Linked DNA regions of Homo sapiens: region 1 is linked to region 2. The links come from fine-mapping of genetic effects on gene expression. Tissue or cell type: whole blood. Region 2 holds a variant in brackets; the other region holds the start of a gene. All regions are shown on one strand. Distances are between the middles of the regions.

Region 1 (2,669 bases), 32 kb after region 2:
TTGGCGTTATGGTTGTGCCAAGACCCAGGCCTAGCACCTGGCCGGTAGTAAGTGCTCAGGAATTGGCTCCATTCATGCTCTCCCAGGCTAGATGTTTAAGACATATCTTTGCCAATTCTCTGTCCTTGGGCCCCTGGGAAGCCCGCAGCCCTTCCTCTCTGCTCCCTCTCTACCTGCTATAGGGCCCAGTCATCTCAGGTCTGAATGTTCATAGCTTTTCTGCCTCTCTGCCCACCTCCTTCCTGGTTTCCAGAGTCCTTTCTGTGTGTCAGGCGCAAGCTATGTGCTGGTGCTGGGCACACAGTGGGCTGGGGTAGGAGGGGGCACAGAACCACAGATGTACATGTCAATAGGAAGTGGTAGGTGCTCCACCAGGGTTCAATCTGGGGAGGCTCCCCAGAGGAGGTGGCATTCATGCAAATTCAGTGTGGGTATGCAGGGAGGGGGAAGCAGTGGGAGGAGAGGCAGGGGCTGGGTCTCCATGCCAGGGTGCCACTTGCCAAGAACCAGCTTGGGGTAGCCATCTGAGGACCACACTGGCAGCTCCAAAAGGCCCCAGCCTTGACCCCTGCCTGGTCCTCGCTTTTGCTTGCCTGCTCTCCCCTGCAGCAGTGCCCTCTCCTGCCCTCCTGGGCCCCAGCTCACATTCACCCTGCCTGCTTCATGGCTTCTCCCCGCCAGGAATGACCCTCCCTTCCAAATGGGCTTGGGGTGGGGGGTACAATCTCAAAGGCAGTTTCCTCCATAGAGTTCCCAGGTGGACCACTAAGTCTCCTGCTTTGGCTGGGGGCACCCTAAAGGGTGATTAACTTCTCTCAGCCTCAGTTTCCTCATCTGTGAAATGGGAATATCAGTGCATACCTTCCTGGCTCATGGGGAATAACAGAAAACAGGGCAACGGGTACAGCACCTGGGGACAGTCACCTAAGTGTCAGCGTGTCCTCCTTTTCATCCCCTCCTCTCCACACAGCACACAGGAAGTGAGCCAGAACTCTTGCTAGATAAACAATGAACCCCGCCCAGGTGTCAGGAGTGGGAGATAACCAGGCTCCCCCCGCCGGGGTCGGGGAGAGTCAGCAGGAGGCTTGCGGGGGCGGCGGGGGGGGGGGCGCTGCCCAATCTGGAGTGAGATACTCTGTGTCCCTGGGGCTTTCGGCGGCATCTTACTTGGACGATCCCTAACCATGGGAAGCAGATGAGTCTGGAAATATTGCCCCTTTTTGGAACTTGGGGAAACTGAGCGTCAGAAAAATTGGGGACTTCAACCAGGGGCTGGAATGAATCCAGCCCAGCTCAGACCTCAGGAGGAGGGGTCGGAAGTTGGCAGGGGAGGAAGGCATAGTCGCCGCGGGGCGCCCGGAGGAGGGCGGGGGCGCCGCGGGCCGGGCCGGGTCACGTGATAGCCGAGGCCCGCCCCCCCCCCCCCCGCCCACGTGGGCCGGGAGGTGCGGCTACTCCCCCGGCCCCGGCAGACCTGCGACTGGCCCAGTCGCCCCTGGGGCCCTTTGCCACTCCCTTGGCAAGGAGAGCCGAGACCTCAGTTCCCGGCGGCTCTTGCGGGGCACAGGTGAGCCCTGGCTGCGCGCGCGGCCCCTCCTCCCCGGCGCCTCCCAGGTGAGCGGCCGCGATCCCGGTCCCGGGTCCCGCCAGCCCCAGCTGCTTCTCCTATGCGGGGACAGCGGCAATCCCCCCTGAATTCCTTTCGGCCTCTGGGGCCATTTGGCAGCCGAGTTCCCTCCCCGGGTGCTCCTGGAGCTCCCAGGGCTTGACCCTCCGGCTCGGACAGAGCTGGGAGCGGCAGGGGCGGGGAGGACAGTGCGGGGAGCAAAATCCGCAGCCCCCACCCAGGTCCCCCAGCCGAGCGCCAGGGCACGGGGAGGGGAGGGGAGGGGGTGTGGCCGGGATGGGAAGGGGCGGGGGACAGGGAGGCCGGCTGGACGGGTTCGGTGGCCCCAGAGTTGCAGCCGCTCTGGGCTCTGGGGCCAGGTTGCGGTTCTCCCTGGGTAGCGGCTGCTCCCGGGAAGCTCGCTGCCGGCTGGGGTGGGGGTTCCTGGAAACGGGCGCCACCCAGCCTCTCCCCACCTAGCTCAGGAATGGTGCGCCTGGAAACTCCGCTGGACTTGCCTGGGCCTCGGGGCGGAGTGCTGGGGCGCTGGGTGCCCGAGTCCCCGGGTTCCCTGAGCTTAGAAGGGCCTGTCTGGAGGAAGGGATTCCAGCTCTAGGGACTGGGTGGGGCGTCCTCAGCCCCTCTTTCGGCAGCTGTCCCGTGTTAGGCTGGGTGGGGCCGCCTCGGACCCAGCTCTGGGCTGGTTTTCCCACGTCTTTGCTCCTGCTGGAGGGAGGGGGTGGTGTGGGGCCTGGGCCCGAAGATGGCACCCAGGACACTGAGGGAGGGCGCCGTCCGGTCCTGTGACTGGCACCCCTGCAAGGAGCTGCTCTGTCGGGGCGCCCCCGGGCTTTGCCTGTCCGAGGAAAGCGCCCTTCAACCCGGCCGACTTTGAGCCCTGAGTTCCTGAGGGTGAGCGCAGGAGGAGTCCAGGGCAGAGGCCGGCAGGACTCGCTGGTGGCTGGGAGCTGAGTCCTGGCTCCACTCTCACAGATGAACGGGCCCCGAGCCCAGGGCCCCAGACAAGGCTGCTCTGGTTCCAGTTGTGCCGGGTGACGGCAGA
Region 2 (2,840 bases):
ACACCCAGCCCCTGGGGCAACTTTCTTAACTCCCCAGAGTTTTAGCTTACATAGCTATAGACCCAGAGGCTCAGACCCCACCCCTGACACTGCTGTGAAGATCAAGCGAAGTAATGCACAAAACGTGCCTAACTTTTTTTTCGTTTCTTTTTCTTTTTTTTTTTTTTGGAGACGCTCTGTTACCCAGGCTGGAGTACAGTGGCGCAATCTTGGCTCACTGCAACCTCTGCCTCCCGGGTTCAAGCGATTCTCCTGCCTCAGCCTCCTGAGTAGCTGGAACTACAGGTGCACCCCGCCACGCCCAGCTAATCTTTGTAATTTTAGTAGGAACAGGGTTTCGCCATGTTGCCCAGGCTGGTATCGAACTCCTGGGCTCAAGCGATCAGCCTGTCTCGGCCTCCCACAGTGCTGGGATTTGCGCCCAGACAAACGTGCCTAGTTTATCACCTTGAGGTCCGAGCTGACAACTGGGGCCCAGTCATTTCTGCCACCATCGGGCTCTTTCCCTCTGTGCCCTCAGGCCCCTGCCAGGAGACTGTGCCCTCAGGGCCCCAGCCAGGGACAGCAAGTCCTGATTAAAGGCCCCAAGGGACTGAGAATGGCCTTGGAGGTGGCAGCCTGTCCTTGTCCACACCCTCACACCCTGGCTCTCTCTAACCCCAGCAAGGTTCACAATCCCCACTCCCAGAGCTCCCCATTGATCTGCACCCCACCTGCCTCCTCAGCCCTGTGCCCCCCACCGCACTCACTGGACCACAGCTCCCAGTGCATCTGTAGCCTGGCACTGTCCACATGGGCACCTGAGGTGGAGGACGCCCAGCAGAAGTAGGTGAGCAGGTCTGGACTGGACTTGAGTGTGACGTTGAGGTTGAAGGAGGCCGGCTCGTGGGTCTTCACCACCTTCTTGGCCACCTTGATGTTCTTGGTTCCACAGAGGGAATAGGTGATGGGCGGTGGTGGCTGGGGTGCACAGCAGGTTATGAGCACCCAGCGGCCTTTGGGGAAAACTTCCAGGACTTTGTAGGCAATGGAGACCACAGGGGTAATTTCTGGGAGATGAAAAGGTCCAAGGAGGAAGAAAGAAACCGACATTGATCAAGCACCTTAAGAAGGTACTGGTTTGGCCAGGCTCGGTGGCAAACACCTGTAATCCCAGTGTTTGGGAGGTCCAGGTGGACGGATCACTTGAGGTCAGGAGTTCAAAACCAGTGTAGCCAACA[T/C]GGTGAAAGTCTGTCTCTACTAAAATACAAAAATTAGCCGGGCGTGGTGGTGCCCACCTGTAATCCCTGCTACTCGGGAAGCTAAGGCAGGAGAATCTCTTGAACCAGGAAGGCGGAGGTGGCAGGTGGCAGTGAGCCGAGATCACACCACTGCACTCCAGCCTGGGCGACAGAGGGAGACTCAGGAAAAAAAGAAAAAGGATGCTGGGTTTAGCATGTTCTCTCTCTCTCTCTCTTTTTTTTTTTTTTAGATGGAGTCTTGCTCTGTCACCCAGGCTGGAGTGCAGTGGCGCGATCTCTGCTCACCACAACCTTCGCCTCCTGAGTTCAAGTGATTCTCCTGCTTCAGCCTCCCGAATAGCTGGGACTGCAGGCGCGTGCCACCACGCCTGGCTAATTTTTGTATTTTTAGTAGAGACAGGGTTTCACCATGTTGGTCAGGCTGGTCTCAAACTCCTGACCTCGTGATCCACCCGCCTTGGCCTCCCAAAGTGCTGGGATTACAGGCGTGAGCCACCGCGCCCGGCTGCAATTTACTTCTATAACAAACCTGCACATGTACCCCTGAACCTAAAAATTACAAATAAATAAGTGAAACCAGTAGACCTCAGAGTAAAGAAAAAAGAAAGAAAGAAAATACTGATTTAGTGGTTCCTCAAAAAGTTAAACAGACTTACCATATGACTCAACAATTCCAGGCCTAGACATACACCAAATAATAGAAAACAGGGACTCAAACAGATACCTGTACACACACGCTCATGGCAGCGTGATTCACCACAGCCAAATGGTGGAAACGGCCCAAATATCTATCAATGGACGAATGGGTAAATAGAATGTGGTTGATCCATATAAGGAATATTACTCAGCCTTAGAAAGAAATGAGCACAGATGCAGGCTGCAACAGGGATGAGCCGTAACAACATTCCACTAAACAAAAAGGCAGACGCAAAGGGCAACGGTTGCATGATTCCATGTGTGTGCAAAGTTCAGAACAGGAGAACCCACAGAGACAGAAAGCAGATTGGTGGTTACTGGGGCCCAGGGGAGGGGGAAATGGGGAGTAACTGCCTAATAGATACGGGGTTTCCTTTTGGGGTGATGAAAATCTCTCGGAACTAGATAGCGGTGGTGGTTGAGCAACACTATGGATGCACTAAATGCTGCTGAATTATCACTTTTTTTTTTTTTTGAGACAGAGTCTTGCACTGTCGCCTCCCGTGTTCAAGAGATTCTCGTGCCTCAGCCTCCAGAGTAGCTGGGATTACAGGCACCCACCACTACGCCTGGCTAATTTTTGTATTTTTAGTAGACATGGGGTTTCATCATGTTGGCCAGACTGGTCTTGAACTCGAGACCTCAGGTGGTCTGGCCACCTCAGCCTCCCAAAGTGCTGGGATTACAGATGTGAGCCACTGCGCCCGGCCCACTTTTATTTATTTATTTAAAGACAGAGTCTTGCTCTGTCGTCCAGAATGGAGTGCAGTAGCACGATCTCAGCTCACTGCAACCTCCACCTCCTGGGTTCAAGCGATTCTCCTGTCTCAGCCTACCATGTAGTGGGGACTCCAGGCATGCACCACCATGCCCAGCTAATTTTTGTATTTTTAGTAGAGACGG

The links. PIP is the estimated chance that this variant, and not a neighbour inherited with it, causes the effect. A credible set is the group of variants that fine-mapping cannot tell apart.
Region 1: TMC6 starts here. The variant in region 2 is the best candidate, but not a certain one, in a credible set for the expression of TMC6 in whole blood (INTERVAL, PIP 0.83).

The regions. Positions count from the first base shown.
Region 1 is chr17:78,127,557-78,130,225 of GRCh38, reverse strand. It overlaps TMC6 (transmembrane channel like 6), which reads left to right and starts at 1,471. Exons shown (of 20, transcript NM_001127198.5): 1 at 1,471-1,614. RefSeq lists a silencer at 1,378-1,907 and an enhancer at 2,588-2,669.
Region 2 is chr17:78,159,164-78,162,003 of GRCh38, reverse strand. It overlaps C17orf99 (chromosome 17 open reading frame 99), which reads right to left. Exons shown (of 5, transcript NM_001163075.2): 3 at 750-1,049. Among named protein-coding and RNA genes, the nearest start is that of SYNGR2, 8.0 kb to the left of the region's middle. RefSeq lists silencers at 1,575-1,624, 1,665-1,714 and an enhancer at 1,935-2,094. The variant T/C (reference allele first, on the strand shown) is at 1,221.